Homo sapiens: one gene and its partner. The protein of the gene in region 2 interacts with the protein of the main gene of each other region in a pairwise test. Each region holds a gene or a part of one and is shown on either strand. Other genes may lie near its edges.

Region 1 (7,910 bases), on a different chromosome or scaffold from region 2:
AAAATATATAATATTTCAACTGTATTATGAGGAAACTCAACTACTGTAGGCTTACTTAGAAAATTAGCCATTATTTATCATTTATTTCTTTGAGCAAGTAATTTCTAAAACAGCTAACTTATGCACTTTTAGAACACAATTAATTTACAAGCTGGGGCTCATCTGTCCCTGAAAGTAGACTTTGTATGCTTCACAAAGCACTCTCAAATACATTAACCCATTTAGATGACAACTCACATCTCTATCAGTCAGGACCAAGTATTATTATCCCTAATTGGGAGAAAACAAGGGCAGGGGAGAGGGATAGAAAAATGGCTTGCCTAAGACCACACAGGAAGCAAGTGACAGCTAAGTCAAACACCCAACTTCCATCTCCCACTCCATGCCTTGTTATATTACAATGTCTGCTTTCTTTGATAAGGTTCACAGAGTTGACATTTTCCATCATCATAATTAAGCTCCTTTTCTGTTTTCCACTTATTAAACTGATACATACCATCTGGCTTTGCACTGCTTTGCTGATTTTCTATGCAGCAATGAGGCAATCCTAGACCACTGATTTTTCCCATATTTCATTACCGCTGCTTTCAGAATTTCATCCTAAAAAAAATTGCCAAAGAGTACATTCAGTCACAAAACTCCAAGTGGGAAAAGACAAAATTTAAATTAACTCTGATAGGGCTATTGGAGAAAGAGACATATAACATGCACATACACACCACCTAGGTTAAAAGACTAAGGATGAAAACCTCATTAACTATAATAACAGCAACCAAGAATTGAGAAATTAAGAAGAAATCCCTTAGAAAGACAGCTACCCACCCTTACACCACACTCTCCAATAAATTGGGAGTGGGAACAGCCCAATCTGAGAAACCCTACTTTATGACAAAAATTAAGAAAAAGTATTCTTCAACGTGTGGCTGTCCTTCTCTTCAAAAAGGATAACTAAAAAACACAACAACAACAAAAATGTATAACTCATTCATTTATACACTCACTCAAAAAACACTTCCTGAACATCTACCTTGAAACATCTACCTTTCCCTTGGGGAAAGGTCTTATCAAACAGGACATATCCAGGCCTCAAGAAGCAAGTTGGGACTCTGGTGAATATATTCTCCAATCCAAGCCTCCTGTCTCAAGTTTATACATGGCATTTCCCCTCCAGCCCCTTAACCCCAACTATGACCCAAGAATCCACATCTCAGGTCTAACCTAAGAATTACATATTTCTACCCCAACCCCACTAGTCAGCTCTCCTTCCAATTTCCCCCCATCTCTAGATACCATTTCACCAGGGCACCCATTGCCATGTGGAATGCACCAACCTCAAGGAAGCCTGGCAAGCCAAGCCAAAGACAAGAAAGTTAATGGAGCCATAGATGCATGCACTTAGGCGATTTTACTTCTAGGCTTTTTTTCCCACATTGGATTTGAGGTACGTGCCTCTTGAGATACCCCACTCCATCCTCTACATCTCCCATGATCAAAGATACTTTTTAAAAAGACTGCAGAGCTTTGACCACTGCATAGGAATCCTACTGTTACTTGATTTTATATCTGTCTCTCCCTCAGAAGTCATCTCTTCTCCAATTTAAACAGTCTGGTTCCCTCGGTGGAAGCTGAGGCAGTTTTCATTGTCTTTTTTGTAACTTGGTTGCAGTACAACTACACTTAAACACATTTTCAATTAAATAGATACAGCAGATACCTACTCTACTTGATTCATTCTGCAAATACCTGTCGAGCAACCTACTTCATGTTGGTTACTGTCCTAGGTCCTAGGGATACCAAGACCTGGTCCTCTCGCCATGCTGTCTGGTGAGGTGAAAGAGCAACTAGCTCTTACTCAGAGGCTACTATGTGCCCTACTCTGATCTAAATATTCCAAACGTATTAACTCGTGTAATCCTCAAGAGAGGTTAAGTATTATTATCCCAATTTAGAAAAAGTAGAAAACTGAGGCTTTCAGAAGTTAAGAAACTTACCGAGTACCACACAGAGGATGTGATGCTTACAAAAAGACAAAGCAAGTTTTAACAAACGGAAGAAAAAGGTATCATGAGAATATCGGGGGTGCAATTAATTCTTACAGAGATTCCAAGAAGTGTTTCCGAACTAGGTTTGAAGGATGATCAGAAAGATGTCAAGCGCTAGGAAGGCAAAAGATGTAAAAAAAAAAAAAAAAAGAAGCCATAAAATGTAACGAAAAAAAGACACAGAGCATGAAAAGACATGATGTGCTCCAGAAACTGATAAATTCGGTACACTCTGAACACAAAACGCACTAAAATCTAATTTCTATTTCACTCCCACTCTACTGCCCTTTGGCTCACCAATGGCACTATCCACTACGTTTCTGGAAACAGAGACTATCCTAGGCCAGTTTTTCCTTTCTGGCTTCTATCTAGGCAAAGGCAGTGACAGAAAGAGACAGACCTTGGGATCTGTCGAGATGGCAGACAGGTTATGCCCTGATAACAGATAACCAGAGAGATGCGGGCATAAACGGGCTCTCTGAACCTGGCACTCAAACTGCTTCCCCTCTGCAAGGAAGTCAATGGAGACACAAAGTTGTGGCCACGGCAACTTCTTTATTTCTGAGTATGAGACAGAGTCGTGGTGCCTGGACTAAGAGTGGATGGTGCCCCGGGGGACCAACTCTGGCTGAGTTGGAACTCTGAGTTCTTCCCGGGGCCGGGGGGGGCGGGGGGGCGGGGTGGGAGGGGGCGTATTCAAGTCAACAAATGTTCACTCAGGGCCTAACAAGTGAGCTTGGAGCCGAGTAGCCAGGTGGTGACATCACGGTCCCTGTCCTACTGGCGCTCGCACAACACGGGGCCAGACACACGGAAAGGGCCCCAAGGGTCAGCCCCCGGGCTGCCCTCCACGCAGACCCCACAGGGTCTCCTCGTCGCCCCCCCGACCTCCGCGCGCGTGCGCACAAGCTGCTAGAGGGAGCGGCGGGCAGCGGACGGCGGGAAAAGGAGACTTACCTCGGTATTCCTCCATACGCCCCCCTTGATCATAATTCGAGGCATCTTGGCGGCAGGGTGTCTCGGCAAGCAGCCGAGAGGAGCTTCAGAGAAGTAGTAACAGCGATTGGGCCACCGGACTCAAAGCCGCCACTTCCTCCAAGCGCGACCTTCTGCTTTGAAGATCTGCGCAAGCGCAAGGTGGGAGGGGGCGCAGAATAGCAAGTCTCGCGAGATATTGGGTGGCTGAAAGGGAAAAAGTGTCTTGTGGAAGCTCAGCTGCAGGAAGACTAACACAAAACCATCAAACCACTCTGGCCAAAGCGCCTTACGCCCCGCGCATGTCCAAAACAGAATGGAAGAAACTACGGCTCTCGCGAGATAGCGGCGGTAGCGCTTGGCTGGGAACTTAGTGGTGGGATTGATCGTGACGTCACCGAGTGGCAGAGGGTGGGAACGTCACGCGTACGGAATTTCAGCACAGTTGCTCCGAAGAAGGCTTTGTTAATTTATTAATCTAGCCCTTTCAAGTATTTCAGTAATAGGAATTTATTCACAGAATACTCAGGAAAATCCAGTAGTTTATTTAAGGCTCAGTTTCCTAACCTGTAAAATAGAGATCATAGTAATGCCAACCTCACAGGATTGTCGTAAGGGCTAAATGAGATCATAGACCCAGCACAGTATCTGATCCATAATAACTGCTGCAAAACAATAGCAGCTATTACTGCAAGGAGGGCAACGCCAACTTCACCCCGTCCCCAGGTGATCCAGGCTTCTTCCAGAAACCTGCAGAAACGTCACGTCAGAGTTTTTAATTCATCGCCCAGTCTGGATTAATAATGCCATTGGTACGCACTGGTATTAGACAAAGTCGAGTTGGGTTGAAATATTGTGAAATCTTGGCTTTCTCATAAGTTTGGGTAATAACCTTACTGAATCTCAGTATCCTCATCTGAAAAGTGGAGCTAACAATACCCGCCTCGTAAATGAGGAGGCAGATTAACTGAAACATAACTAAAACCCAGTGAGGTAGGGATTGGCAAACTCTCTGCTACCCCACCCCAATTACTCATGCAGTCTCCTTCATCCTTCCAGAACATCTCTGGCTCCATCCCTGGAAAATATCAAAATATTTAGTGGGTTGGGAAATGCCCTATTTATAGTACTTAGTATTTATATAGTGCCTATCTCTTTATATTTCTTCATTTCTCCGTTTGCCTCTTCTGGAAGAGCTACAGAATTTTCTTTTTCCTTTTAGCTTTTATTTACACACATTCTGTGCAATTATGGTCAGCAAGAGGGCATTTTCCATGGCCACCCTGGTAGTGTTTGCCACTCAAAGGTTTATGCTGGCGGGCAGCCCGCCCTTGAGCTGTTTACCCACTGTGTGGTGTATAAGAAACCATTGGACCTGTGGCCAGTTAAACTCAAACAAAATGTTTTCATTTGGACCTCTCCTGTAATGGGGCGGTTTTTTTTTAATTTGTTATATTTAATTTTTGTGGGTACATAGTACACACATATTTATGGGGTACATGAGATATTTTGATACTGGCATACAACACATAATAATCACATCAGGGTAAATGGGGTATCCATCATCTCAAGTGTTTATCTTTTGTTTTACAAACAATCCAATTATAATCTTTTAGTTAATTTAAATGTACAATTAAATTATTTTTTACTATAGTCACCCTGTTGTGCTATCAAATACTAGGTCTTCGAGATTTTAACACTGGAGCATAGAGGAGGTCAGTCTCTACTGACTGCTGAACATCCAACACGTGACACCCAGGAGTTGTCTACCACCATGTTTTGGACTAAGGGAAAAAAGCAGGTAAAGAGAGAGATGTAAGTCCTGACCATGTCAGAGTACCTGGATCCAGCATGTTCCTGAGTCCCAGCTGCATTCCTGTCCTTGCATTCTGATTATTAGTTTCCTATTTGTGTTAGCCACTTGGAATTGGGTTTCTATTATTTGTAAGGAAGAGTCCTAACAATTCCAGAGATGGACCAATACTCTGTCAGAGGCCTTTCAGATCTCACATTCCAAGAGTTGATGAAGGCTTCTCCCTCCCACTCAGGGCCACCTCTTTACCATATGTTACTTTTGTGAGAACTAGAAAAAGGTGCCCCTTCCTCAAGACACTTTATGCCACATGCTGGAAAATTGTCACAAAATACTGGTGTTCTGAGAACAGGGCACTCTATTACAAGAAAATTGGATCTACCATCTCCACTATGTGAATTCCACCCCTAGAGACATGCATTGTACAACTTACTCATCCAGGTAAAACAGCCCTGTCAACTGTCCCTCATTTCACCTTTGAACATGCAGATTGTATATTCCCTTTCAGAATTCAGAAAAATGCAACATCATGGAAGTTCCAGGATGTCTGAAACCAGAGCACTGTAGCCACAAACATCAGAACACAAACACACTGTTCTCCAGGATGGCCTGCTTGGCCAGCCTCCCCCACCATACTACTGCAGCCTCACCAGCCAGGTATGGGAACCCTTACAAAGAGGCCACAGGGACTGCCAACAATCTCTTGAGGGACAGCCATAAGAAGCATCTATCGTTAGGCAACCAGACTATATGGTCAGTCACTGTGAATCTTTGGTAAAGTGAGTGGCCACTGCTAAATAGTCTCACTCACCCAAGGCATTTTTCCCCAAACATGTTCCTTAGAACACCAGTTACATAAAATACTCCATTTAAAAAAAAACAAAAAATAAAAAAAAACATGGTTTTTATGTCCTCCCCTCTTGCAGAGTCACTGAAATTAAAGCCTGTAAGAAGCTGTCAGATGAAAAAATCTGTTTCTCCCTGTTGAGAGTTGAATTGTATTCCCCCCAAATAGATATGTTCAAGTCCTAACCCCTGCTACCTGTAAATGTGACCTTATTTGGAAATAGAGTCTTTGCAGATGTAATCAAGTTAAAATGAGATCATACTGGAGTAGGTTGTCCCTAAATCCAATGAGTAGTGTCCTTATAAGTGGAGAAGAAAAAAGATACAGACACACAGGGGGAATATCATGGGAAGAAAGAGGCAGAGATTGGAGTGATGCAGCTCCAAGCCAAGGAATGCCAAGGATTCTGGCAGCCACCAGAAGCCAGGAGAAGGCATGGAACACATTCTCCCTCTGAGCCCCAAGAAGGAGCCAGCCCTGCTGACACTTTGATTTTGGACTCCCAGCCTCCAGAACTGTAAGAGAATACATTTCTCTTGTTTTAAGCCACTTAGTTTATTGTGCTTTCTTGTGGCAGCCCTAGGAAGCTAATACACTCCTTTGTTAATACAGCAGATCCTTGAATAACATCATTTTGTGCAAGATCGTTTCATGATAACATTGATGAGTCCAGGCATGGTGGCTCATGCCCGTAATTCCAACACTCGGGGAGGCCAAGGCAGGAGGATTGCTTGAGCCCAGGAGTTTGAGACCAGCCTGAGCAACATAGTGAGACCCCATCCCTACAAAAATATTAAAAATTAGCTGGGCATGGTGGTGCACACCTGTGATCCCAGCTACCCATGAGGCTGAGATGGGAGGATCACTTGAGCCTGGGTGGTCGAGGCTGCAGTGAGCCATGATCACACCACTGCACTCCACCCTGGGCGAGACCTCATCTCAAAAAAAAAAAAAAATCCGCTTGAGGCCAGGGCCACTGTCTGTGTGGGTTTCTTCCAGATACCCTGGTTTCCTCCCACATCCCAAAGCTGTGCAGGTGAGGTTCATTTGCAAGCCTGCAGTCTGAGTGAGTGTCAGGGTGTGTGAGTGTGCCCTGCAATGGGATGGTGTCCTGTGTGCTGTCCAGAACTGATTCCTGCCTTGTGCCAGGATAGGCTCCGGCCACCTGTAACCCTGAACTGGAATAAGCGGGAGTACATTTCTTGTTTTTATTAATCTTTCTTTTCTTTTCTTTTCTTTGAGACAGAGTCTCACTCTGTGCAGGCTGGAGTGCAGTGCCACAGTCTCGGGTCACTGCAGCCTTGACCCCCACCCCACTGGCTCAAGCAATCTTCCAACTTCAGCCTCCCGAGTAGCTGGGACTACAGGCGTGCACCCCCATGCCTGGCTAAGTTTTGTATTTTTTTGTAGAAATGGGGTTTCACCATGTTGCCCAGGCTGGTCTCAAACTCCTGAGCTCAAGTGATCTGCCCCCCTTGACCTCCCAAGGTGCTGAAATTACAGGTATGAGCCACCGTGCCCAGCCTAATCTTTCTTAAATGTATGCATAGCTTACACTTATTTCAATGTTTAATATTAGAAGTGTTTTGGTCTTTGTTTAGAAGTTCGTTGATGTTTTGTGACCAGAAATATGCCATAGAAACTTAACTCTTGTTTATATCAATTAGCCTATGGTAAAATTGATTACATGATACATCCTTTTGCTTAAAGTTGCAGTTTCCAAAAACCTAACAATGATAAAAATGAGGACTTACTATATAGCATTTCCAAACTAATTTGACCCTAAAAACCTTTTGTGTTATATATCCATTGACACTCAGGAAACACAATTTGGGAAACTCTGGCTCAGGAAAAAGAGGTTAGAAGTCCATCCAACTTACAAAGGGGAACCAGAGATGTTAGCAGGAGGATTTTTAGGTTGCATTGTCCCCATTTCCCTACCCCTCACCCCTCTCTGGGTAGCTGGTTCTGAATGGATTGACATTTACTTAGCAGAGAAAGTAATCAAAATTCTAGTTTCCCTTTCATCCAGTTTTTTCACCACCAAGAAACTATGCAGGAAAGGGCTAAAATTAGGGGCAAAAGCCTATGGCAACAGCAAGGCATAGTTTAGAGGCAGGATTAATGACTCTCACAATCTTCATCATCTCCCCAAATAAACATGCATAATAATTTAAATAAAAATACTGTCCTGCTTTGCAAATGCAGTCATGTGTCAATGACAGGGATACAT
Region 2 (7,466 bases):
GGGCCAAGGCAGGTGGATCACGAGGTCAGGAGTTCGAGACCAGCCTGGCCAATATGGTGAAACCCCATCTCTACTAAAAATACAAAAATTAGCCAAGCGTGGTGGCGGGCGCCTGTAATCCCAGCTACTTGGGAGGCTGAGGCAAAAGAATCGCTTGAACTAGGGAGGCAGAGGTTGCGGTGAGCCGAGATCACGCCACTGCACTGCAGCCTGGGCAACAGAGCGACATTCCATCTCAACAACAACAACAAAAAGTTTTCTCTTTCATTCCAGCCTGACAGCCCTGCAGAGATTTGCAGATACATCAGATCCCCTTGGGACAGGGTCAGGATAAACATCTCTAGTCCTGCCAGTGTTTCTTATGACACAGTTGCAGCAATAGTAGCTAATATTGATTGGTCACTTACTGTACACCTATACACAGACTTTACTCATATTATTTAATTTCCAAAACAAACCTACAAATCACAAACTATTATTATGCACACTTTATTGATGAGAAATCTACGGCTCAGAGAGGTAAAGTGAGCTGCCCACGATCACAGAGCCAGAAGGAGTAGAGCTCTGTTCACACCTGGCTCTACGTTACTGCAGAGAGCACCAGGCTCCTGGCTGGCCGGTTCCCACCTTGCAAGGCTCATAGAAAGCACTTCAGTGTTTGATTACTCCAGACCTCTCAATGCCCCTGCATTTTTCTGCTTTTCTCCTTACTGGCTCTAGAAGGCCATGGGTTTAGAAAATCCTCAAATGTCAGAATATGAAGGGCCTTTAGAAATAAGCTGGCCTGGGAGGCCCAGCCAAGGAAGAGGTCAGAGAGGAGGATGTGAGCCCAAGACCAGGTCAGCTGACTCTCAGTGAGGCTCCATGCACAACCTGGGCTGCCGCTAAGATCCCATCACCACCACCTCTCTGAGCTTAGAACTGCTCCCAAGCTACTGTTCTGGAACAAGAGGAATGGCAGAAAAGGCCAGGAGGTAAGAGAGCCCTGCCCTCCAAGGCAAGCTCCTGCAGCCCGCACTCCAGCCCACAGTGACTCCATGGAAAAGGAATTCAGCAGGAGGTTTGGACCAGATCCAGCCAGCCATCCAGATGATTTTCGCCACCCTTCACAAACAAAGCTGGGGAGGCGGGGGGACACCCTAGAGTCCCTCGTAGCAGGGCACCAGGGGGCAACTCCATCTAAAATTCCTCAGACTAGGGAGCTGCCCTCTCTGGCAATATCCCAGGCAGCAGCTGCTCAAGATCATGCTCTTGGTGTCAAAGGTGGGGGTGGGGAGGTAGCCAAAGGCTACAGGGGACAGGTACCTCATTGAACCCTCAATCGGCCTGGCTGTGGCCTGCACTTGTGCAAGTCATGATGTCCCCACCGCCTCCCCACCTAAACTTCTGCAGGGCCAAGTTGGGGTGCTAGCCCTTTAAAGACCCACCCTGGACACTGGATCAGGAGCCCTGAAGATAGGCCTTCAAGAGAGGAAGGGGTGGAGGGCGGGCACAATGAAAAGCTGCCTGGGGTCAGGAGACCTGGGTCCAACAGGGTAAATCCTGAAGTGGGGGAGTAGGCGAGAAGCCCCAGCACAGCCATGAGAAGGGGCTTTGCAACGACTGCTGTCACTACTGAGCCCCTGCTGCAGCCCAGGCTCAGTGCTGTGCACTTTATGCTCACCACCTTGTTCAGTTCTTACAACAGCTCCCAGACATAAGTCCTGTGATTCTTCTCATTCTGCAGATGAAACTGGGGCTCAGAGAGACCTGCCCAGGGTCACACAACTTATGAGTGGCAGAGCTGGAATCCAAACTCAGAAAAGTCTGGCTCTGAGTCTAATCTCTTAACTATTCTCCTTCCAGACTAGGACTCTGGAAAGAGGAGAAACAAGAGAGGCTCCAGTGCTCTTGGATGATGGTCTGCAAAGCCCTCTGCTCCCTCATCTTGTGATCAATGCCCCTCAGCAATGTCTTCTCCCCTGAAAACCCAGCTGCCTAGAACAACTCCTTCTTTCTTCCACTTCTTCCTTTCAGGAGAAGAGTTGATAAACTCATTCTTACTAAGGTAGAAAGGACTGATAAGGCATGAAAGATGAGTAGAGTGGGAAGATCACTATGTTGGGAGTCAGAAGACCCCAGTTCTTGTTTGGCGTAGAAAGGGACAAACCCTTTCCCCCACCCCTACCACCCACTGTGGACAGCTGCTTGTTCTGCCCACCACTGGGGCCCGTGTGGATGGAGGATCCACAGGAGGGAGGTGGGGCCGGGGAAGGGAGGCCAGAGCAGAAGGTCAGGACAGGGAGAATTCAAGGAAATGCTTCTTCACACGATGCCGTCAATGGGAGTGTCCAGCCAGGGTCAGGTGGGGCGGGGTGGGACAGAGAGCCAGGGGTAGGAATAGAGATTGGCTCAAGGCAGCCCATTGTGGTAGTCCAGGGGTCTTGGCGACAGGAAGGGTAAACAGGCTGGGTAAACTGCCCCCCTGGTGAGGTCAGGAAGGAACCAATGACTGGCCACTGCACAACCTCTGGCTCAGCTGGGGGCAGGAAAATGGAGAGGCCTGAGTAATGGCCTGGCTACCTTGCCAGCCCCTTCCCCATTCCTCCCACTGAAAGGAGGAAATGACACAGGCTCCATGCCCTGGAGAATTCTCCATCCCCAGAGTCATGGCGAGCGCAATCTGACTGGGGTCGGCAGACTGCCAGACCTCCTCTTGGGAGGAGAACAATCTAGACTTTGGTGGGAAGGACTGCCGGGCATGGGAGAAGACACAGAAATGGGGTGGGGAGCCCCAGGCCCAGCCCCCGCCTCACCACTCACAGGCTGGCAGAAATCACCACATACCTCTCCCTTGATGCCCAGAGGACAGACTAAGATCAGAGGGGGGATGCCACATGCCCTAAGTCATATACCCCAAGCCACAAAGGCACCTCCGGGTGCTCATCTTACTCACTCTGCTAGGTCCTCCCTGAAGCCAAGCTTCCCCCTGGATGCTCCTGCCGGCCTTCAAGCCTTGGTTCTCAAAGCCTCCGGCAAAGGCAGCCAATTGCTTGGCTGACGAAGCCAGGAAAATCCCACATCGGCAGCAACATGAAGGAGCTGGATGTGACTTTTCTCCTCCACAGATGACTCAGCCCAGCTCTTTATCAGGAAAACCGATTTTGCAACAGCCTTTTAAATGGCCTCTCCACCCCCAGTCTCTCCCCCGCCAATCTACCCGCCCCACGCTGCCAGATTCATCTTCCTCCCTCCGGGCTCCACTCATGCCTCTCTCCTGCTCAAAACCCTCTGCTGCCTCCCCAGGACATGGAGGATCAAGAGGAGAGTCCTCATCCTGGCATTCAAACCCCTGCTATCGGGGCCTGCCCAAGAGCTCACTCACCTTCTCTCTGTGCCCTCAGCAACAGTGGAGGGAGTTCAGTGGCTTGCAGTTCCCACAGCTGCCCAATGAATTCCTGCCTGCAAAGCAGCGTTTGCACAGACCCCCTCTACCGGGAACCCTCCTCTGTCTCACATCCTTTCTACATGCCCTAATCCTTCAGATTTCCGGCCTACCTAGAATGCCACCACCCCCTCCAAAAAGCCTTCACCAATGTTCTGTCTGCATCACTTAATAACCACCACCTTGTGTATTATTTATTCTAGTAAAAGTAATCTTTCAGGGTATACTCACCACATGCCAGGTAGCAGGACAGGGCCTTACTTCACTTACTTCCACAGCAACCCATGAGGCCAGCACTATCCTCATCTCCATATTAGAGAAGACGCTGGCTCAGAGGGGTGCAGCAACTTGCTCAAGGTCACACAGCCAGCCAGAGGAAGAGCTGAAATTCAAGCCCAGGTTGGCCTAATGCCCAGTGCAGGGCCAGTCACGTGGGCCATGCTGCCCCCTCCCAGTGTTTTGCTTTGTAGCAATGAGGGTCTGGGCCCTATTTTCCCCCAGAGACTGCAACGGCCTCGAGGGCAGGGGCCTCTACTGCTTCACTTCGGTATTCCTCCCTTGTCCCCACCACATCTTCCATTGGCACTTGCAGAATAAACATGAAATCTATGAGAATGACAAGAGCCAACATTTTGGGAGCACCAGATGCTGCCAAGCCAAGGGTTTAACATGCCTTTTTTCATTTAATCCTCACAGCAACTCATAGAGGAGGTTCCCTTATCCCCATTTTGTAGATAAGGAAGATGAGGCACACAGAAGCAGCTAACTCACCCCAGGTCTCACAGCTTAGCAAGGGGCCCCTGCGGTCTGACTGATCTCAAGCCTGGACGCCTTCCTTCTGAAGAGCTCCCCACAAAGCAAATTCACCTTCCTTACTCACCCATCCAGGCCCAGCCCAACGGCCACTTCTTGTAGGAAGCCCTCATCAATCCATTCAGACTCCTAGATCAGTGCTCCTCCCCTGTTCAACCTGGCCCAGAGGCCCCAGAGCAGGAACAGAGCTCAGAGGAAACGGCAGGTTGAGAAAACTCAGAAACCCAGGGGAAGGAGGCTGGGCCTGGCCAAACTTCTGGTTTCTCTCTGCTGGCAGTGGGTCGGGATCAGGGAGGGCAGAGATGGATGGGTAAGGGGAAGCTAAGATGAGGGCTCCACAGTCAGCGCAAGCCTGACCCATCTTCTATCCTTGCAGACCACAAGCCCTGCTCCCTGTTGGCTGACCAGGGCCCTGCCAAAGGCCAGGAGCCACAGCCTCTCTCTTGCCCATTCTACTGGGGTAATTATTAATCTATAATCAGTCAATTTTTAGAAACTTTGAGATGGTAACCCAGAGAGAGGCAAGCTGAGCCCCAGGTATACAGCAAACTGAAAAGGGAGGGCTCACAGAGAGGATCACAGGATCACAGCCCAGGCTTCCACCTCTCCAGTCCAACCCTGGTGAGCTAAGCCTGTGCTCACGAAGCCCCCTCCTGCTGTTTCACTCTCCCCAGCCCCAGCTCCCTGGAAGCCTTGGGAGTACAGAAAGAACCATCATACCCTGCCTTTCCAGAGAAAACACATAATCTAAAAGACAAAAAGGTGGCAAGCCAGGGCAGGGAAAGAGGTGGTTTCCCCTAAACAGTGCCTCTGCCAGGGTCAGGGCAGGGCCTAGGTCATCTGCGGGTCCCCTCCACTCTTCCCAGGGCCTGACACACTCTGGGCCCGCCACAAAGATGTGGTCCTTCCCCTTAGCCCTGTGCCAGCCTAGGGCCAGGACTGGTCTCTGTCCTCTGTAAATGTCCCCAGACTCAGCAGAAGCCATCACCCAGGAGGGGTTGAAACCATCACTGTGTTGATTAAATAAACTACTAAAGGACAAGCACTTCCAGAATCCAAAGCCTCCCCCTTCACATTTTGCTTCACCATTCATCCCTGGAGATGAATTTTAGATTTGTCTAAATCCAAGATTCATCTAGATTCTAGATCAAAGATCTAGAGGGTGGTTCCTGGGAGTGGGAGGAGAAGGAAGGAGAGAGCAACACGTTTGTGAGGGAAGGAGATGAAATCTCAAATCACTGTGTTAGACCTAAGGGGAAGAATGTTTCATGAAGTGAGGGGAGAACATACAACCTAAGAGAAAGATGAATTAGGATGAAGCAATCCAGGAAGTCTTCCTGGAGGAGGTGACATATGTCCTAGCTCTTGAAAGATGGAGATAAGGAAGCATTCTAAGCAATGATGATAGCTCAGCAGAGACTAGGAGGTTCAAGATAACCCCCACCCCACTCCCCTACCTACCCCCATACCCCAAATCAAGACCAGCTGAATAGAAAGGAAACTTTGATAGAGGAACACACCCACTGGGCTTGCCCAGAGGCCAGGGGTGAATGGGGAGGGCTAGGCACAGTTCCACAGGAGCTATGTACATTACCAGGCTCATGCCCGGAGACCAGAACCTGGGCCTCCGGGTGGGTTACATAACTGCCCCCAACTCCTTGGGCCACAGAGCCAGCTGGGACCCTCCGCCTCCACCTCTCCTGCCATCTGTCTCAGCAGCTTCCTTCTTATAGGAAAGGACGCCGTGCAGCCCAGCTGAAAGTGAAGGACAGCGCCCTGTGGTAAATTCCCCACATTCCTTCCTCACAGAAAAATAAATAACTCAAAGAAAAAACGCAGGAGGAACGATAATGACAAAGTCACCGCACATGGGGTAAACAACAGAGAGATGAGGTTTATCCCCAGGAGGCGTCATCACCAGCCTGGGGCTCTGGGACAGACAAACCTGCCCCCAACCCCTGCGGGTTCCCCAGACGGGGTCTCAGGCGCGCTCACAGCTGCCAAAGAAGGCGCTGGGAATCCCTCAGTCGTGGCAGGTGGTCACCGTGTGCAAACTCCTCAGGGGCCGGGTGCAATCATGTTCATTACTCAAGTTGCTGCTTACTGAGCACTTCTAATGTGCGAGGCATTCGGTTTCAGTGTTATCATTTTTCATCATGTTGTTTTATTTTATCCTCACAGGCTGTGAGTTAGGGAGTACCATTATTCCCATTTTACAGATGAGGAAACTGAGCCTCAAAAAGAAAGGTTTTGTGATTTGTCAAGGTTATTTGGCCAGTGAGTGGATTGTGGGTTTCCAGCCGGCCCCTCACTCCCGAATCCATTCAGCCTGCCCGCTCCTCCCACAGACAGCCCTCCTTTACCAAATCCAATCAGAGGTGCAGCCAGTTCTTCCCCCATCTATGGCTCAGCAAGGCATCCTATTCAAATTGCTGGGCTACCTTCAGTAAATCACTTCACCTCTCTGAGTCTCAACTTCATCATCAGTAAAACAGGGATAATAATATCTGCTTTGCAGAGTAGCTGCTGAGTAAATGAAATGCAGCAATGATTTCTAAAGTATAAAGCACTGTGCACACATTGGGGGGTGGTTAACTGTAGGCTTTTGCACACACCCACCTCTGCGTAACTCGACCAGGCTGGGGCTGTATCTGTCTCTCTCCCTGTCTTCACCACCCCTCTCTGGGTCTGGTCTCACTCTTCTGCTCATTATCAGACACAGTCCAACCCCATCCCCCTTCCCAACACCCCCCACCCCGCGTTCTCTCTGCACAGGGGATCCCCATGTCACTTCTAGCCAGAACCAGTTTTGAACCCCAGGCCCCCTCAGAGGAGGACACCATGGCTCTGGGGTGCTGGAGGCTGCTGACCCTGCCATGGCCCTCTCCTCTGCTGCCATTCACCAATTACCAGGCAGGTCTGGCCCCACTCCAACAGGAGGAGTCTCCTGCCAGGGAGAGGCTGAATCATGCAGTCCTGCCCTCCATGTTTCCCTCAAATTATAAAAGAAAAGAAGACTAGAAGTCAGGAGATTTGGTTCCAGGGTCTGTCCTGTCACAATTTGGGTGAGACACTGGGCTGATCCCTGACCCTCTTGGGGCCTCAGTGCATCCAATTTGTCCAAAGGAGGGATTGGACTGGACTGGTGGTTCCTAGAGTGTGGTGCCCCCACCACTAATGGAAGCAAAAAGGATTTTAGGTGGTACCTTGATATTTAAAATCTTAATAG

Evidence for each region.
Region 1: the proteins of SYNPO (region 2) and CDC5L interact in binary tests that used the Homo sapiens proteins (3 or more experiments, as listed by UniProt).

Annotation. Positions count from the first base shown.
Region 1 is NC_000006.12:44,382,958-44,390,867, reverse strand, and holds the start of CDC5L (cell division cycle 5-like protein), read right to left. Parts: upstream 3,163-7,910; 5' UTR 3,045-3,162; coding exon 3,000-3,044; exon of another isoform or gene 2,949-2,999; intron 601-2,948; coding exon 497-600; intron 1-496.
Region 2 is NC_000005.10:150,636,324-150,643,789, reverse strand, and holds the start of SYNPO (synaptopodin), read right to left. Parts: upstream 3,131-7,466; 5' UTR 2,936-3,130; intron 1-2,935. UniProt on the Homo sapiens protein: Actin-associated protein that may play a role in modulating actin-based shape and motility of dendritic spines and renal podocyte foot processes.